Linked DNA regions of Homo sapiens. The protein of the gene in region 1 purifies or fractionates together with the protein of each later gene. This does not show direct contact. Each region holds a gene or a part of one and is shown in the gene's direction. Other genes may lie near its edges.

What was found. The genes of interacting proteins can lie anywhere in the genome.
Region 2: the proteins of USP32 (region 1) and DNAAF5 purify together in Homo sapiens (affinity purification with mass spectrometry; one large-scale study listed by BioGRID and IntAct). This does not show direct contact.
Region 3: the proteins of USP32 (region 1) and EFNB2 purify together in Homo sapiens (co-immunoprecipitation; one large-scale study listed by IntAct). This does not show direct contact.
Region 4: the proteins of USP32 (region 1) and ABCF3 purify together in Homo sapiens (affinity purification with mass spectrometry; one large-scale study listed by BioGRID and IntAct). This does not show direct contact.

The regions. Positions count from the first base shown.
Region 1 is NC_000017.11:60,221,134-60,224,633, reverse strand, and holds part of USP32 (ubiquitin carboxyl-terminal hydrolase 32), read left to right. Parts: intron 1-1,047; coding exon 1,048-1,223; intron 1,224-2,084; coding exon 2,085-2,225; intron 2,226-3,500. UniProt on the Homo sapiens protein: Deubiquitinase that can remove conjugated ubiquitin from target proteins, such as RAB7A and LAMTOR1.
Region 2 is NC_000007.14:778,699-782,198, forward strand, and holds part of DNAAF5 (dynein axonemal assembly factor 5), read left to right. Parts: intron 1-1,254; coding exon 1,255-1,446; intron 1,447-3,500. UniProt on the Homo sapiens protein: Cytoplasmic protein involved in the delivery of the dynein machinery to the motile cilium.
Region 3 is NC_000013.11:106,532,863-106,536,889, reverse strand, and holds the start of EFNB2 (ephrin-B2 isoform 1 precursor), read left to right. Parts: upstream 1-1,227; 5' UTR 1,228-1,925; coding exon 1,926-2,047; intron 2,048-4,027. UniProt on the Homo sapiens protein: Cell surface transmembrane ligand for Eph receptors, a family of receptor tyrosine kinases which are crucial for migration, repulsion and adhesion during neuronal, vascular and epithelial development.
Region 4 is NC_000003.12:184,184,725-184,188,998, forward strand, and holds the start of ABCF3 (ATP-binding cassette sub-family F member 3), read left to right. Parts: upstream 1-1,474; 5' UTR 1,475-1,483; coding exon 1,484-1,556; intron 1,557-1,782; coding exon 1,783-1,930; intron 1,931-2,070; exon of another isoform or gene 2,071-2,071; coding exon 2,072-2,151; intron 2,152-2,639; exon of another isoform or gene 2,640-2,672; coding exon 2,673-2,719; intron 2,720-2,939; coding exon 2,940-3,037; intron 3,038-3,136; coding exon 3,137-3,259; intron 3,260-3,416; coding exon 3,417-3,683; intron 3,684-3,939; coding exon of another isoform or gene 3,940-3,946; intron 3,947-4,036; coding exon 4,037-4,117; intron 4,118-4,204; coding exon 4,205-4,264; intron 4,265-4,274.

The DNA.
Region 1 (3,500 bases):
TTTTTTAATTGTTTTGTAGAGACGAGGTCTCATGTTGCCTGTGCTGGTTGCAGTCTTCTGGCTTCAAGCAGTCCTCCAGCCTTGGCCTCCCAAAGTGCTGAGATTACAGGCATGAGCCATTCCTCCTGGCGTGTGTTATTATTTCTTCCAAGATGTTCTTTTCCTTTTCTGTGGAAGGTGTAAGCAAATTGGACAGAGCTAGCATTTTCTTCACAAAGCTCCTTGTAGAATCTGCTTCTTCCCTCCCTTTCTGGTATTACAAAGATCACTTAGCAGTCCTAGAAGTGCTGTCATCAGCTTTAACATGAGGATTATTTCTTAACCCCATCTAAAGATCCTGTTTGGTATGTGCTTACCATATAACTTGTGACACCCAAAGGCTGCATACCACAGGCAGAAGGTTACAAAGTGATGACTGCTAGATTGTTTACCAAAGATTAGCATGTAGTTGAGAGTTGAAATGGCTTAAAATACCACTGAGGCTCACAACTCTAAGCCATGGTTAATCATCTTCTGTGCATATTTTCGTATTGTAAAGATCATGTATTTCTTTCAAAAGAACTTGTGGACATTGAGTTCATAGATACAATAGGATCTAGCCCCCATTACTCTTTTGTTGGAGTTCTTGTTTTAGTTTTCTTTTAATTTAGTGACTTCATATCACCATTATCTACCAAGAACATTTGGAATATTTTTCTAGTTTGAGGAAAATAATTAAAGGATGCTATGTAGAAGCCCAGCCACTTAGCCCAGCTCTTCCCTTCCAGTCGGAGGACATATAATTCTCATTATGAATTATTAGATATTCTAGGAGGGTGGCCAAATGTTCATTTGGTAATAATTTTAAAAGCTCTTATTTTTAGTACCATGCCATGTATTGTTCAGAGAAGGATAACATTTCCTGTCTTCTACAGAATTACCAGAATCTTAATCTGTACTGACATGTCAACAGAGTAATACAATACATGGGCATTGAGTTCATATCCTCAAGCCTGTTTATGTATAATAACTAAAAATAAGAGATTCTATCCTCTTTTTTTTTTATAGGCTTTCTGTATTCTGCCACACCAGGGGCAGATGTTTGCTTTGCTCGACAACATAACACTTCTGACAATAACAACCAGTGTTTGCTGGGAGCCAATGGGAATATTTTGTTGCACCTTAACCCTCAGAAACCAGGGGCTATTGATAATCAGCCATTAGTAACTCAAGAACCAGTAAAGGTAAGTAATTTTACATCTAAACTTAAAATTATTCTCTTGCAAGCTATTAATAAATTTCATTTCAGAGGTTTTAGCACATAGCAAAACATTGATGGTTCATTTAATTACTGTATTATAGATGGACATCTCTTTGTATAGTACATTTCTGTGAGAATATTTATGATTTAGAACTTACATAGAAGTAGTTTAGTAACCCTTGGCATTATTGTTATTCTTACTTAGGACAGCTATTCTGAAAATGTTGTTTCACATACGCTATGTATGAATTTTTTTTTCCAAACTAGTATTTTTTATTGTTTGAAAGAAATCTGTGAAGTTATTTCAAGTGCTTTAGTGATTTTTCCAAATGATATGCTTTGAGTTTCATTTCTTACATAGTTTATTTTGAAAGTCAAAAATAAAAATCTCTCATTAAAAATTCAGTTTTTTTGCTGGACGTGGTGGCTCATGCCTGTAATCCTAGCACTTTGGGAGGCTGAGGTGGGCAGATCACCTGAGGTTAGGAGTTTGAGACCAGCCTGGCCAACATGGTGAAACCCCGTCTCTACTAAAAATACAAAAATTAGCCGGGCATGGTGACGTGTGCCTGTAATCCCAGATACTCGGGAGGCTGAGGCAGGAGAATCACTGGAACCCGGGAGGCGGAGGCTGCAGCAAGCGAAGATCGCGCCACTGTACTCCAGCCTGGGTGACGGAACAAGACCCCGTCTCAAAAAAAAAAAAAAAAAAAAAATTAAGTTTTTCCAGCAACATGAAACTGGGTGGTGATATATGAGTTTGTTTTCCTGTTTCTAGGTATTGCTGAGACCCAAAAACTTTTGTAATATTGAAAGTCAACATTGTCATTCTATTCTTTCTCAGGCTACATCATTAACACTAGAAGGAGGACGATTAAAACGAACTCCACAGCTGATTCATGGAAGAGACTATGAAATGGTCCCAGAACCTGTGTGGAGAGCACTTTATCACTGGTATGGAGCAAACCTGGCCTTACCTAGACCAGTAAGTATAGTTAATAGTGCCTTATATAAGGAGCAGTCATAGATGGGGGTCTTCTGTTACTTTTTCTATGTGACTCTCACTAACCACAAAGTAGCTCTTACCTTGTGGTAGAAGAGTGTTCTGAACCTGTGTGGATTGTTCAATGTTAAGTTCCTTCACATTCGTTCATTCATTCATAAATAAAGGCAAGGAAATAGGAGGCTGTTGAATGTGTTATCCACATAAAAGTAGACATCACCTAGGATATGTGGAACTTAGGCTGGAGGGGAAGACAGGCCAAGAGCCAGTGCCAAAAAGTTCAGTGAATGTAGGGCGTGATGCAGAGGTTATTTCTGAAACTACTATTCCTAACAATCACACAAGTATCTAGTTAGGGATTGGATTCTTCTTGTAGCTTTTGGTGGATTTTTGTGGTTTATGTTTTTGAAGGAGGGGCATATAAAAGATCACAACATATGATAACAGAATATTATATTAAAATATTAGTATATAGCACCATTTGTTGTGCTTACACGGTAAACAGCACTCGGTACTCTGGACACTCACTTTTTACATTGTTGATGAAGTAAAATATAACAAGATGTTTTGGTGGGATTTGTTTTGGTATATTAAGAAACACTCTTCCACCTGTAATCCCAGCACTTTGGAAGGCCGAGGCAGGCAGATCACGAGGTCAGGAGTTCGAGACCAGCCTGGCCAACATAGTGAAACCCCGTGTCTAATAAAAATACAAAAATTATCCAGTGTGGTGGCACACTCCTGTAGTTCCAGCTACTTGGTAGGCTGAGGCAGGAGAATTGTCTGAGCCCAGGAGGCAGAGGTTGCAGTGAGCCAAGACTGCACACCATTGCACTCCTGCCTGGGTGACAGAGCGAGATTCCGTCTCAAAAAAAAAAAAAAGAAAGAAACACTCTTCCTTTTATAATGTCCAAGCTAAAACTTCCTTATGCCAGGAAGGTTTTGTATAGATGAGATATGGTACGTTAACTTCTAAAAAGAGTAAAAATCTGTTATAAAACAGACTAATGTAATTTTGATGTTGATTTTGAGTTCTTAATAATTACGTTTATGAAAAATAACCTCAAGCTCCAGGGTTTGAACAATATTCCCACCTCAGCCTCCCCAATAGCTAAGACTGCAGGCACACACCACCATAACAGCTAATTTTTAAATTTTTTTAAGAGACAGAATCTTGCTGTGTTGCCCAGGCTGGTCTCGAACTCCTGGTCTCAAGCAGCCCTTCTGCCTTGGCCTCCCAAAGTGCTGGTATTACAG
Region 2 (3,500 bases), on another chromosome or scaffold:
CTGACTCCGTCCTTCCTCCTGAGACACGTGCAGCGAGGGCACCCACTGTGCAGCGAGGGCTCCCGCCGTGCAGTGAGCATACCCCCTGTGCAGTGAGGGCACCTGCCGTGCAGTGAGCATACCCCCCATGCAGCAAAAGCACCCCCCATGCAGCGAGGGCTCCCGCTGTGCAGTGAGCATACCCGCTGTGCAGTGAGGGCACCTGCCGTGCAGGGCTGCTTCAGGGTTTGGCACCATAATGCCTGGATGTGCTCCGTGGCTTCCTCCTTGGTGCCTGTGTTTGGTGGCTGGAAGGCCCAGCACCCTCAGGGCCCAGAACCCTCAGGGAAGTGCCTGGGCATCTGCCAGGAATTAACCCACTGGGTCCCACTTGTCTCAAAGCCTGGCTTGGTAGGATGGCCTGAACTTTGGATGTTTTTCATGCCTTTCGTTACATAGGATCCTCTTGCTGAGGGTGGATCATGCCCTCCACATTGCAAAAGCATCAGAGACCCAGCCCACCCTCGCGTCTGCAGCGGGAAGATGGGCCTGGTGCCAGGCGCGGGCAGCCGCCCCTCCCAGCGTCGGGAAGATGGGCCTCATGCCAGGCATGGGCAGCTGCCCCTCCCAGCGTCGGGAAGATGGGCCTCCGGGTGGTTTTGCGACTCAGTCATCTGCGAATTTCCGGATGCTGCACAGAAGGGGGTGCCAAAGTTTTTTTAAGATGATGTAAAAAAAGCATAAATTTGATAAAAATTATGTCCATTAACCTCATAAGTTTCTACCCATCGGGAAGGATCATCCTTCTGTTTTCAGCAGCAGAAAACTGACCACAGTAGGGGGTTGTCTGTCACTGAGTCCTCAGCTCTGGTGGGAGGGCAGGGTCAGAGCTGGGCAGGGTGGCCAGCTCGGGGATCTGAGCATCTGGGAGCAGGAGGTGGAGGGCCAGGTGAGCACACAGCTGCGAGGAGGTGGAGGACCAGGTGAGCACACAGCTACAGCTACAGGGAGGCTCTGCGCCTGCAGGACAGGTTATTACAGGGGCCGCAGCAGGGCCTGGGCCGCCTCCACTCTGTTGGCTGGGGTTCAGGGGTCCCAGGTCGCCAGGAGCACCTTGCATGTGGCTCGGGATGCACGGAGTCTCCCGTGAGGTGTGGGTTTCTTAGGACCCCAGGGCAGGTGTCCCATGGGAGTATGAACTAAATGCCTTTGTGGACGTTTAGACGTGAAATGTCTGCTCTAGACTCACACACCTGTCTCGCTCCCTCCTTCCAGAACTCTTAAAACGCCTAGATGACGTGTCCAACGATGTGAGGATGGCAGCCGCCTCCACCTTGGTCACCTGGCTGCAGTGTGTCAAGGGTGCCAACGCAAAATCCTACTATCAGAGCAGTGTCCAGTACCTGTACCGAGAGTTGCTGGTTCACCTTGACGATCCAGAGAGGGCCATCCAGGATGCAATTTTAGGTGAGACTCCGACGGCTTGGCCTTCGTTCCGATGCCTGCTTTCGGCGCCTGCCACGGGCATCTGTAGCTGAGCCGTGTGACCGGCCACAGGGCCCTGGGGCACAGGAGGGGCCTCAGCTCCGGCCTGGCACACTCTTGAGTTCTTGGCAAACCCTGAGAGCGGCTGTCTTTGTGGTGATAGCTGCTGACATTTCCTCTAACAGAAATCAAAACTGAGAGTATTCTAGAATACTTGTTAGTTGTTTAAAATAACAATAGTAAGCCCAGTATATATTGACACAGATGGCTTGTGTTTTTGAAAAATACTTTCCAAAACAAAATCATCTGCAAGAACGATTTTTGCAAATGTCTTAAATGTGTAGCTTGATGGAAGACACTGGACTTTCACATCTTCCATACAGTCAGTCATGATGTGTATGGCTCTGGCTGAAATACGTGGAAAATAATCTGGCCTCGCCTGTGGCTTCAAGTGTAGTTGGACAAAAGAAGAGTATTTTAGTAGCCTTTTCAGATAGGCGTGGGACTTCTTCAATACCACGCCAACAGCGACACAGGCCGTCCCTTGAAGGTCACTCACAGCACAGGGCCTGAGGCCACACACCACAGAGCCTTCCACGCTCAGTGCATTAAAATCCGCTGGTCCATCTCACACTTGGAATGTAACGATTTGCTTTTTTTTTTCTTTTTTTTTTTTTTGTTTTGTTTTGTTGTTGGTGAATATAATGACGTTGTTCTTTTTTTTAATAAAATTTGTATTTTTAATTTTTGTGGGTACACATAGGTGTATATAAGGCATGTGTGATACTGTGATACAGGCATGCAGTGTGTGTAAATCACATTGGGGAAATGGGGTCCCCGTCACTTCAAACACTTACACTTTCTTTGTGTTACAAATAATTCAGTGATACTTTTCGTTATGTTTAAATGTGTGATAAATTATTGTTGACCATAGTCACCCTGTTGTGCTATCAAATACTAAATCTTACTCATTCTGTTTTTGTACTCATTAACCATCCCCACCTCTTCCCCCGGCCCCATTCCTCTTCCGAGCCTCTGGGAGCCATCCTTCTGCTCTATCTCCATGAGTTGAATTATTTTTATTTTTAGTTCCCACAAATGAGAATGTGCGGAATTTGCCCTTCTGTGCCTGACTTATTTCACTTAACATAGCGACCTCCACTTCCCTCCATGTTGATCCAATGACTGGATCTCATTTCTTTTGTGGCCGGATAATATTCCACTGCGTGCGCTCCACGTTTTCCTTCTCCCTTCATCTGTCCGTGGACACCCCGGTTGCTTCCACACCTTGGCTGTCGGAACAGTGGGGCATTCGGCGTGCGCGTGCAGCTCTCCCCCATAGCTGAATTCCTCTCTTTTGGGTATTTGCCCAGAAGTGGGATTGCCGGGCTGTATGGGGCTCTATTTTTAGTTTTGGAGGGACCTCCAGACTGTTCTCCCAGCGGTGCTCATTTACATTCCCACCAGCAGCGTGAGGGTTCCCTTGTCTCCACATCCGCGCCGGGACTTGTTTCCGCAGCCATTTTAACTGGGGTCAGAGGATGTCTCACTTGTTTCTATGTGCATTTCTCTGAGGAGCGGTGGTGGTGGGCACCTTTTCAGACGCCTGTTTGTCATTTCCATGCTGTCTTTTGAGAGCTGTCTGTTCAGGTCTTTTACCCATTTTTAATTGGATTATTAGATTGTCTGCTATTGAGCCTGAGCTCCTCATATATTCCAGTGATTAATCCTTGTCAGGCGGCGGTTCTAAGATACAGTCTCCCATCCCGTACCCGCGGGCTGTCCCTGCGGCTGTACTCTGCTCATTCTTCCCTTTGCTGTGTGGAAGCTTTGGGCCTGGATGTGCTGACTTTGCCTTTTGCCTCCTTTGGAAAATACTTAGACCTTCCCCGCGCAGCTGCGTCCGGTTTCCCGGCGTGGCTACATCCGGTTATGCGATGTCGGATCTTCCTGGTGTGGCCGCCTCCCGTCGCGCAGCGTCAGAAACTCGGATCTTCGCGGCGTGGCCGCCTCCCGACACGCGGCGTCAGAAACTC
Region 3 (4,027 bases), on another chromosome or scaffold:
GAATTACTGCCCAGTTTGTGTTTGAAACATAAATCCTGGGGTGGACGGCATTAAATTGAAAAAAAACGTGGGCATACAGTATATTTTAATTTTTCATACTGAATCGTACATTTGCACTGTGCCTTATTTCTACCGTGTTCTTCCTACTGTTGGACATATAAAAAGATTTTCCTTGGAACTGTGACTTGATTAGATGCTGCAGTATGCTGGATCCGGGTCGGTGGACCGCAGAGCGCTCGAGATGCGGAGAAGCAAAGCTGGCCGCTAGTGGGCGCTGTGGCTCCGTGGAAGTCACGGACGAGCGTCAGCACCGGCGCTCGACCGGGAAAGTAGCGAGGAGTTCCTGCCAGCTCTGCTCTGGGGTCTTGCAGACGCCGAGTGAGAAGCACATGCCTTGACTTTTCCATCTCACACCCTCTAAATCTCTGGTCACTTTGGGAAGCGCGCGTGTCTCCTAGAGGCTAGTGAGACGGTCCCCGCGTCGTGCCTGTGCCGGCGACACGCGGGGAAAGCTCCAGGGGCGCCACCTTCCCGGGGGGCCAGGAGGGAAGGGAGACGCCCGCAGAGAAGGCGGGAGGCGACGATGCTCAGGCCCTGATTAGAGCTGCAAATTCCGGCGCCGCGTCGCAGGAATCGTCTTGCAATTCCCGGCCCCACTGACTGAAACTGAGCCGTAGGCGATTGGTACCAAAATCAAGTGAGAAGCCCTCGCCGAGAGGCGTCGGGAGAAGCGCGCAGAAGCCGGGAGCTCTAAGGGTGCGCGCGGAGTGCAAGTCTTGCACGCGGGGCAGCGCCGCATCTGCGGAGAAGGGACGCCGAGCGGAGCCTGCTGCCTTCCGCACTGCTCGAGGGAAAGCCGCGCCCTCTGATTCCGCCGAGGGGGAAGGCGCCCCCGGGCGCGGAGACAGGTGGCCCGCTACTCGGCCGTCGCTGTTTCCACGTCTGCACCGCGCCCAGAAGGCCTCTCGCCGCCCCGGGGGCGCCCTGTGCACGCGCTGAGCGCTTCTCCTGCCCGGCTTCTGCTCCGCTCCCGCCGCCCGCGGGAGCCAGGGGCGGGGCTCACCTGTCAGCCCGAGCCCCGCCTCGCGGCACCCAATGTCGGGAGGGGATGGCGGACGGACGGACCGGCCGTCCAACCAGCGCGCGGCCGCGGAGCCGCGGGCCAATGGGCTTCGCGCGGCGGGGCGGGGCCCCGCGTTTATAGCGCTCTGACAGCGCGGCGGCCGCGCTGACTCTCCTCGGCGGGGACCGCGGCGCCGGCCGGAGCGAGGAGCTGCGCACGCAGCGGGTCCCGGCGCCCTCCCCGCACACAAAGGCCCGCGCGCGTCCGGAGCCCGCGGCGGGGACCGAGCTCCCTCTTTCCTGCCCTGGGGGCCGGGAGCCGCGCGGACTGAGAAGGCTCCTGCGCGCCCGGAGGCGCCCTACTCCGCTCCGTGCTCCGGGACATGGAACCGCGCCGACGCGGCGCCCGCGCGCTCGGGCCGCTGCCCGCTGCACTGGATCTATAGTCACAGGCGGCCCCGCTCGGGGCGCAGCGCCCGCCGCCCGCGCCGGTCGTCTCCGCTCCGGGTCTTTGTGTCCCAGCCCGCACCCGCCCCGCGCCCACCCGCCAGCCGCGGCCGGCCCGGCACCCTGGAGCCGCACGGGAGTCGGCCGTCCGAGCTGCGTCCGGCGCGGCGCCCCGGAACCCCGAGTCCGCCGCGCCGCCGCGCCCCGCGCGTGCGCTCCCGCCCCGCGCCCTGAGGGCCCCGGAGAGCGAGCGCACCTGGCCCGGCGACCGCTGGAGCTGCGCAGCGCGCCTCGGAGCTGCCTGCGGGCGCACGCCGTCTTCCCCGCCAGTCTGCCCCGGAGGATTGGGGGTCCCAGCCTGCGTCCCGTCAGTCCCTTCTTGGCCCGGAGTGCGCGGAGCTGGGAGTGGCTTCGCCATGGCTGTGAGAAGGGACTCCGTGTGGAAGTACTGCTGGGGTGTTTTGATGGTTTTATGCAGAACTGCGATTTCCAAATCGATAGTTTTAGAGCCTATCTATTGGAATTCCTCGAACTCCAAGTAAGTGGCGTCCGCGATCCCCCTATGTCCCCGCCCCGGGGTCCGCCGCGCCGTCCGGGCGGGAGGAGGGGTCAGTCCGCGGGGCCTCGGAGCCTGTTTCTGGAACCTCGGTTCCCCGTCCCCCACCCCCAACCCCCGCCCCATTTCACTAGGTGGAGACTCCTCGCTCGGCTTTCCAACCCGAGCCCCGCTGGAACGGACGGTCTCTCCGCCTTTCCTCCCCCGAACGCTCCCAGGCGCTAAAAGCTACTATCGGCTCGGGTGTCAAGTCCGGGAAGGTGTCCGATGGCGATACCTGACCCTCTCCTGTTTTCGAGGACGAAGGACATGGCCACAATCTAGGCTGGCCGGCACGCGGGGACTGGTGGGCTCTGGAGAGAGGCGGAGATGCTGCATTCGCGGGGAGCGCGGGCGGCGTGGTCCGGGGCCCGCGGGCGGGCGACCGGGGTGGCAGGACGCTGGCAGCGAAGCGCGTTCTGGAGAGGGGAGCCTGGAGTCGCTACGCTGCCCGCAGAGCCCTGGAGCCGGGGCGCCTTGGCACCGCGCCGCCAGCCCGAGGGTGCGCGGGGAGCTCGCCTGCTTCGCAGGAGAACTCGGGCGTCGAGCCCTTTCCTCCGCGCCGGGGAGACGGGCCTTAGGCTTCTCCCTGAGGGCCCGCCGCACCTCGGCCTCCCGCTTCGTTCATAAGCCGGTAGCCCCGGAGTATGCGGTCTCGATGGCCGACCTGATTGTAATGCACTTCCTATAAAAGCTTAGGGCCCTGCCCAGTCGACACTGCTCCTGAAGCCTTCTCCCTCGGGACCCTGGTAGGAATGGGATCCTTAGGATCAGATTTGCTCTTACCGGACTCTACAGCCGGGAGCGAGCCAGGCCTTGTGGAGAGTAACTTTCAGTTTGGGCCACCAGAGTGCATTCAGAATTTAGAAAATCCCATCCATCCCTAAATCTGTGTGGTCATAACTCGTAGTCATCTGGGTATTCAGTACTGTGTATCCCCTTATTTCGAATCACAGCCAAAACATATTTTACAGAATCTTGGAATTGTAGTCTCGGGAAACTTGGAGAAGAAGTATGCAGACATTAGCTGGTTTCTGGAGAAAACGTTTGAGATCAGAAGCAAAATCAATGGCCTAATTGAAGTTGAGCAAGTTGGGCCTGGTTTTAGGAGAAAAGAAATGGGGGATTGATTTAGAAATCACGTCTTAAAGGAGTGTGTCCATTCTCTTAAAAGTGTCAAATTTCAAATTCACTAACATGTTAACCAAGAATCCCTTCATGAAAAGGGCGAAAACGTCGGTTACAAATCGGTTTAAACAAATGTTTGTATGATGCTAGAAGGCACTTTCAACACCGCTCATACGGAGAAGTTACTTAGCTCTGCCTCCTTCCATGTAGTCTGCTCTTGCATGGATTATATTTTTAATGTAAATTGTTGTATTTGCTGATGAAGTACTGGCGGCGGCATCTTTGCATCGATGCCGGCTCGGGAGGCGCCAGGTGGTGCCGGAAGGAGCCGGGCTAGGACCTCGCGCAGCAGCGGGTCCCGGAGTCCGGGAGAGGCGGGCGGGCGGGCGAGGCGGTCGCGGGGAGCCCGCGGCGCCGCTGCCCGCCCGGTGCCTCCAGAGGTCACTCTTCCATGCGGAATCGCGCAGCGCCAGGCCTCGCCCCTCCCCCAGGCCGCCTGCTCCAGCCACTCTGCACTTTCACTGACCGGTTCTCTTTGAGGCTGTTTTTTTTTTTCTTATGAGGATTTAATATTTCTGTTTAAATCTAGTTGAAAGCAATTCCGTTAGCCTCTTCAGCGTTTAGTTCGGTGTGTGTATCTTTATCTTTGCGCTATATTAACTATTAGTTTGTGTGTATCCGGTAGGAGAATTAGAAATACCTAGTTGGGAGAAAAAGAAAAGTAGAACAATAGTTATTTCAACCTAAGGTTTAGACGTTAATAACTTCTTTTTGTAATGTGTCGAGATGGGGGGT
Region 4 (4,274 bases), on another chromosome or scaffold:
ACATGGGGAAACCTCGTCTCTACTAAAATTACAAAATTAGCCGGGCGTGGTGGTGCATGCCGGTAATCCCAGCTATTCGGGGGCTGAGGCAGGAGAATCGCTCGAACCCAGGAGGTGGAGGCTGCGGTGAGCCAAGATCACGCCACTGTACTCCAGCCTGGGCAACAAGAGCGAAACTCCTTCTCAAATTAAAAAAAAAAAAAAAAAGAATATAATGAATCTCCATGTCTCATCACCCAGCTTCAACTATGATCAATGCGTGGCCAGTTCCTTAATATCACATCCAGTTTGTGTTCACTTAACCAGGTGTCTTATCAAATTTTTCCAGATAAGGTCCATTGTGGTTGGTTAATGCTCCTCAAATTTTAAAAATTGATGTTTCCCTTCAGGTCTTGCAATTTTGTGGAAGAAACCAGAGTTCTGTAGTTTACCACATCAGAATTTGCCTGTTGTCCCCATGAAGTCACTTAACATATTCCTCTTTACCTGTATTTCCTGTAAAATGGTTCAATATCGGGATTGATGCCTCATGATGGCAATGTTTAATCCAAAGGGATGAATGGGTAATAATGTAATTTTCGGTGCCACTTTTAGAGACCAATTGGAGGAATATTCACGTTAAATATAAAGCAGTAGCATCATTTTGGAGGAAATTCCTAACTTCCCGAGGGAATCGGTGAAAGGAAATAGCCTTTTATTGGCATTTATTGAGTGCAGAGAAGTCTGCTCAGGGTGTAGGTAGGGAATAATTTATACAGGCCACGTTGTCCTGGTTTTCTTGCCCTTTGGCGGTGGATTTGGTCGTGCCCTGGGGTGGTGGAAGAACTGAATGGGCTTAATTCACAAAGGTCGGCTGAATTACACAGTGAAAAGGCGGTCGCGGCGGGGAGGCGGGTGGCGCTGGCCACCAGGCTGAGAAGCCCGTAGGGTCTGGGGACCCGCGAAAGCAAAGCACTGAGCAGGGGGCTTCTGAGAGTCAGGGACCGGGGTGAGTCAGCAAAGCTCTGGGCAGGCTCCAAAATGGGCCTGACTGGGTACGCACCAGCAGCAGACGCGCCTCGAGGGAGCGCATAAAACCTGGCAAAGCCAAAGTGCTTTATCAGCCGCCTGCCTCTTGGGAGGCTCCCACCCGCCAGACCACGGGTGCCTCGCGGCCCCGATAAACCTTGAGCTCCCAGCCTTTGCCCCACCCCTCGCTCCCGGAACTCCACCTCCCAGAAGGCAGCGAGAACCGCACATGTGGCTAATCTTTCAGCGGAAAAGGTGTCGCGCACGCGCAGAGAGCGCGGCTCCGGCGCAGACTCGGCGCCTCTCCTCAAGGCCCCGCTCGCCCCGCCCACCGGGCTCTGCGCACTCCGCTCCTTTCCTGCGTCACCGCTACACATGCGCCTTGCAAGGAAGGGCGAGATTTCGGGGGCAGGGCGGGGGGCGGGCCTAGGCCGGGGTCTCACAGCGACTGCGCGGACGGGTTCCTGAGTGGAACATGGCGACTTGCGCCGAAATCCTGCGGAGCGAGTTCCCCGAAATTGACGGACAAGTCTTCGACTACGTGACCGGTAAGCAGAACTGAATCGGCCGGCTGGGGAGACCGAAGTGGAGGCCGGGGGAAAGTCTAAGCGAGCGTCGTGCCCGGGACTGTTGCCAGGCCTCTCCTCTGCATGACCTCTTGTCCCGGGGGCTGGTTGGGTCTGGAGCCTGGACTGGGGCCTCTGTCTGGGGTCTGAAACTGCTTGTGTGTCCACCCTACCCGATACCTTCCTCGTTCTACCACGCCCTGCCCAGGCGTCTTGCACAGCGGCAGCGCGGACTTCGAGTCTGTGGATGACCTGGTGGAAGCTGTAGGGGAACTATTGCAAGAGGTGTCCGGGGACAGCAAGGATGACGCGGGCATCAGGGCCGTGTGCCAGCGCATGTACAACACTCTGCGTCTGTATGTGCCAGGGAGTAGGGGTTGATGGGGGCGAAGGGACGGCGAACGGTCCGGAGACAAGAGGTGGGGGAGGAAGATCTGATGGCCATAGAGCTTTTCCCTCAACTCCTAACTCTGCGCTTTCTATCCCTACCCACATAGGGCTGAGCCACAAAGCCAGGGAAATAGCCAGGTGCTACTGGACGCCCCTATCCAGTTGTCAAAGATAACGGAGAACTACGGTGAGAGTGAGGGGAGGTTGAACTAACTGCCCCCCTGTGCTTTTCTCCGCCCCCAACCATCTGCTGCCTGCAGCTTAGGGCTCCTACGTCTTTTCCACAGGACAAGGTTGTAGGAGCTAGTTGATGTCTTTACCGAGGGCAGAAGAGCCCATGATGGGGGTGGGGAGGAGGTTGGAGGGTTCTCCCTCCAAGCTCTTGGGTAGGATAGGAAGCATAAGAGCCTGGAGCTGGACAGACTTGCTTTCACCCCCAGTTTTGCAACTTGCTAACCAGCTGCATGATCTTGTAAGAGTTGGTTATCTGTCCCCAGCCTTGTCTATGCCTCTGTATCCTTCTACGTGAGTTTTGTTTTGTTTTGTTTTGTTTTGTTTTTAGTGCAGGGAAGATAATAGCCATCTATCTGCAGTATTATAAGGTTTTGTAGAAAACATCTGTGTCTGTGCCTGGTTCCTATTAGTCACTCAAAATGTTAGTTTCCCTTCCCTCAGGGAGAAGGTGACTGCTTTTCTTATCGCTTACAGACTGTGGAACCAAACTTCCAGGACTGCTAAAGAGGGAACAGTCCTCGGTGAGGAGGAGGAAGCAAGGGAGGGGACTGTCTGTGATGGGGTTGGGAGTTGACTGTCTAATTGGAGTATCTTTTGGGGGGATTTCTGACTATGTCTTTTCCTGAGCCTTTGAGTCTGTTCATCATGGGTAAGTTAAGAGGGTTTACTCGAGATGTTCTCTCTTGGGGTTCCTTTCTGAGCCTACACCCGAGAGTGAAGTCGATGTGTTTGGACCCTTAGACAGTGAATGCAAAGAAGTTAGAGAAGGCCGAGGCTCGACTTAAGGCAAAGCAGGAGAAGCGCTCAGAGAAGGACACGCTCAAGACCAGCAACCCTCTGTGAGTGGGGGAAGCATGGCTCAGAAGAGAGCAGAGCAGCTTTTGCCTGGACAGAAGGTGGTGGGGAGCACTAAGAGCTGTCCATTTCTCCCTTTAAAGAGTCTTAGAAGAGGCATCAGCCAGCCAGGCAGGCAGCAGAAAGGAGAGTCGGTTGGAATCATCTGGCAAGAACAAATCCTATGATGTGCGAATTGAGAACTTTGATGTGTCTTTTGGCGATAGGTGAGGGAATAGTGGTGGCAGGGGTTGGCTTTCTTTTTCTAATTAGAGGACAATTTGGAGAGGTGAAACGGGGCTATAAACAATGTTAGGTTTGTCATTAAACTTGCTGTGCACCTATTTCTAGAGCATCTTTGGTCTCCTTTCTCCACTCCTGCAGAGTACTGCTGGCTGGAGCGGATGTGAACCTGGCATGGGGCCGCCGTTACGGGCTGGTGGGGCGGAATGGGTTGGGGAAGACAACGTTACTGAAGATGCTGGCCACCCGGAGTCTGCGGGTTCCAGCCCACATTTCCCTGCTGCACGTTGAGCAAGAGGTTGCTGGAGATGACACTCCTGCCCTGCAGAGTGTGCTGGAGAGTGACAGTGTGCGAGAGGATTTGCTACGGAGGGAGCGGGAGCTCACTGCCCAGATTGCTGCTGGCAGGTGAGGACTCCCGGCTAGGGAGTAACTAGCAGCCGCTGTCGCTTACAGAGCGCCTGCCGTCCTGGAACAATCCATAATTTGCATGTACATCCTAGTAATCAGCAGAGCTTAGAACTTGGCACTCTGGGACTCAGAAGCCCTTGTTCTTTCCACAGTGCCCATTGCCCTTTCTTGTTCTTTCCACAGTGCCCATTTCCATAGTGCCCAAGGTAATGAGCACTGTGCAAACCCTTCCTGTATTCTCTTCCTCTTCCAGCCACAAGGTAGCCAATGGCCTTTCCAACGGTATAGGGTGCAGGACATCCTCCTAGACTGCCCCTGCTTAGGCCAATTGCTGTTTCTCCTCCCTCCAGGGCGGAGGGCTCTGAAGCTGCAGAGCTGGCAGAAATCTATGCCAAACTGGAGGAGATTGAGGCTGACAAGGCACCTGCCAGGTATTTAAAGCTCCCCCTCCCTCCTTCAGATTTCCTTTCCCTTCTGTGGACTGTTCCAACTGAGTTCTTCGATTTCTTCTCTACTAGGGCATCAGTCATTCTCGCTGGGCTTGGCTTTACCCCTAAAATGCAGCAGCAGCCCACCCGGTGAGTGACC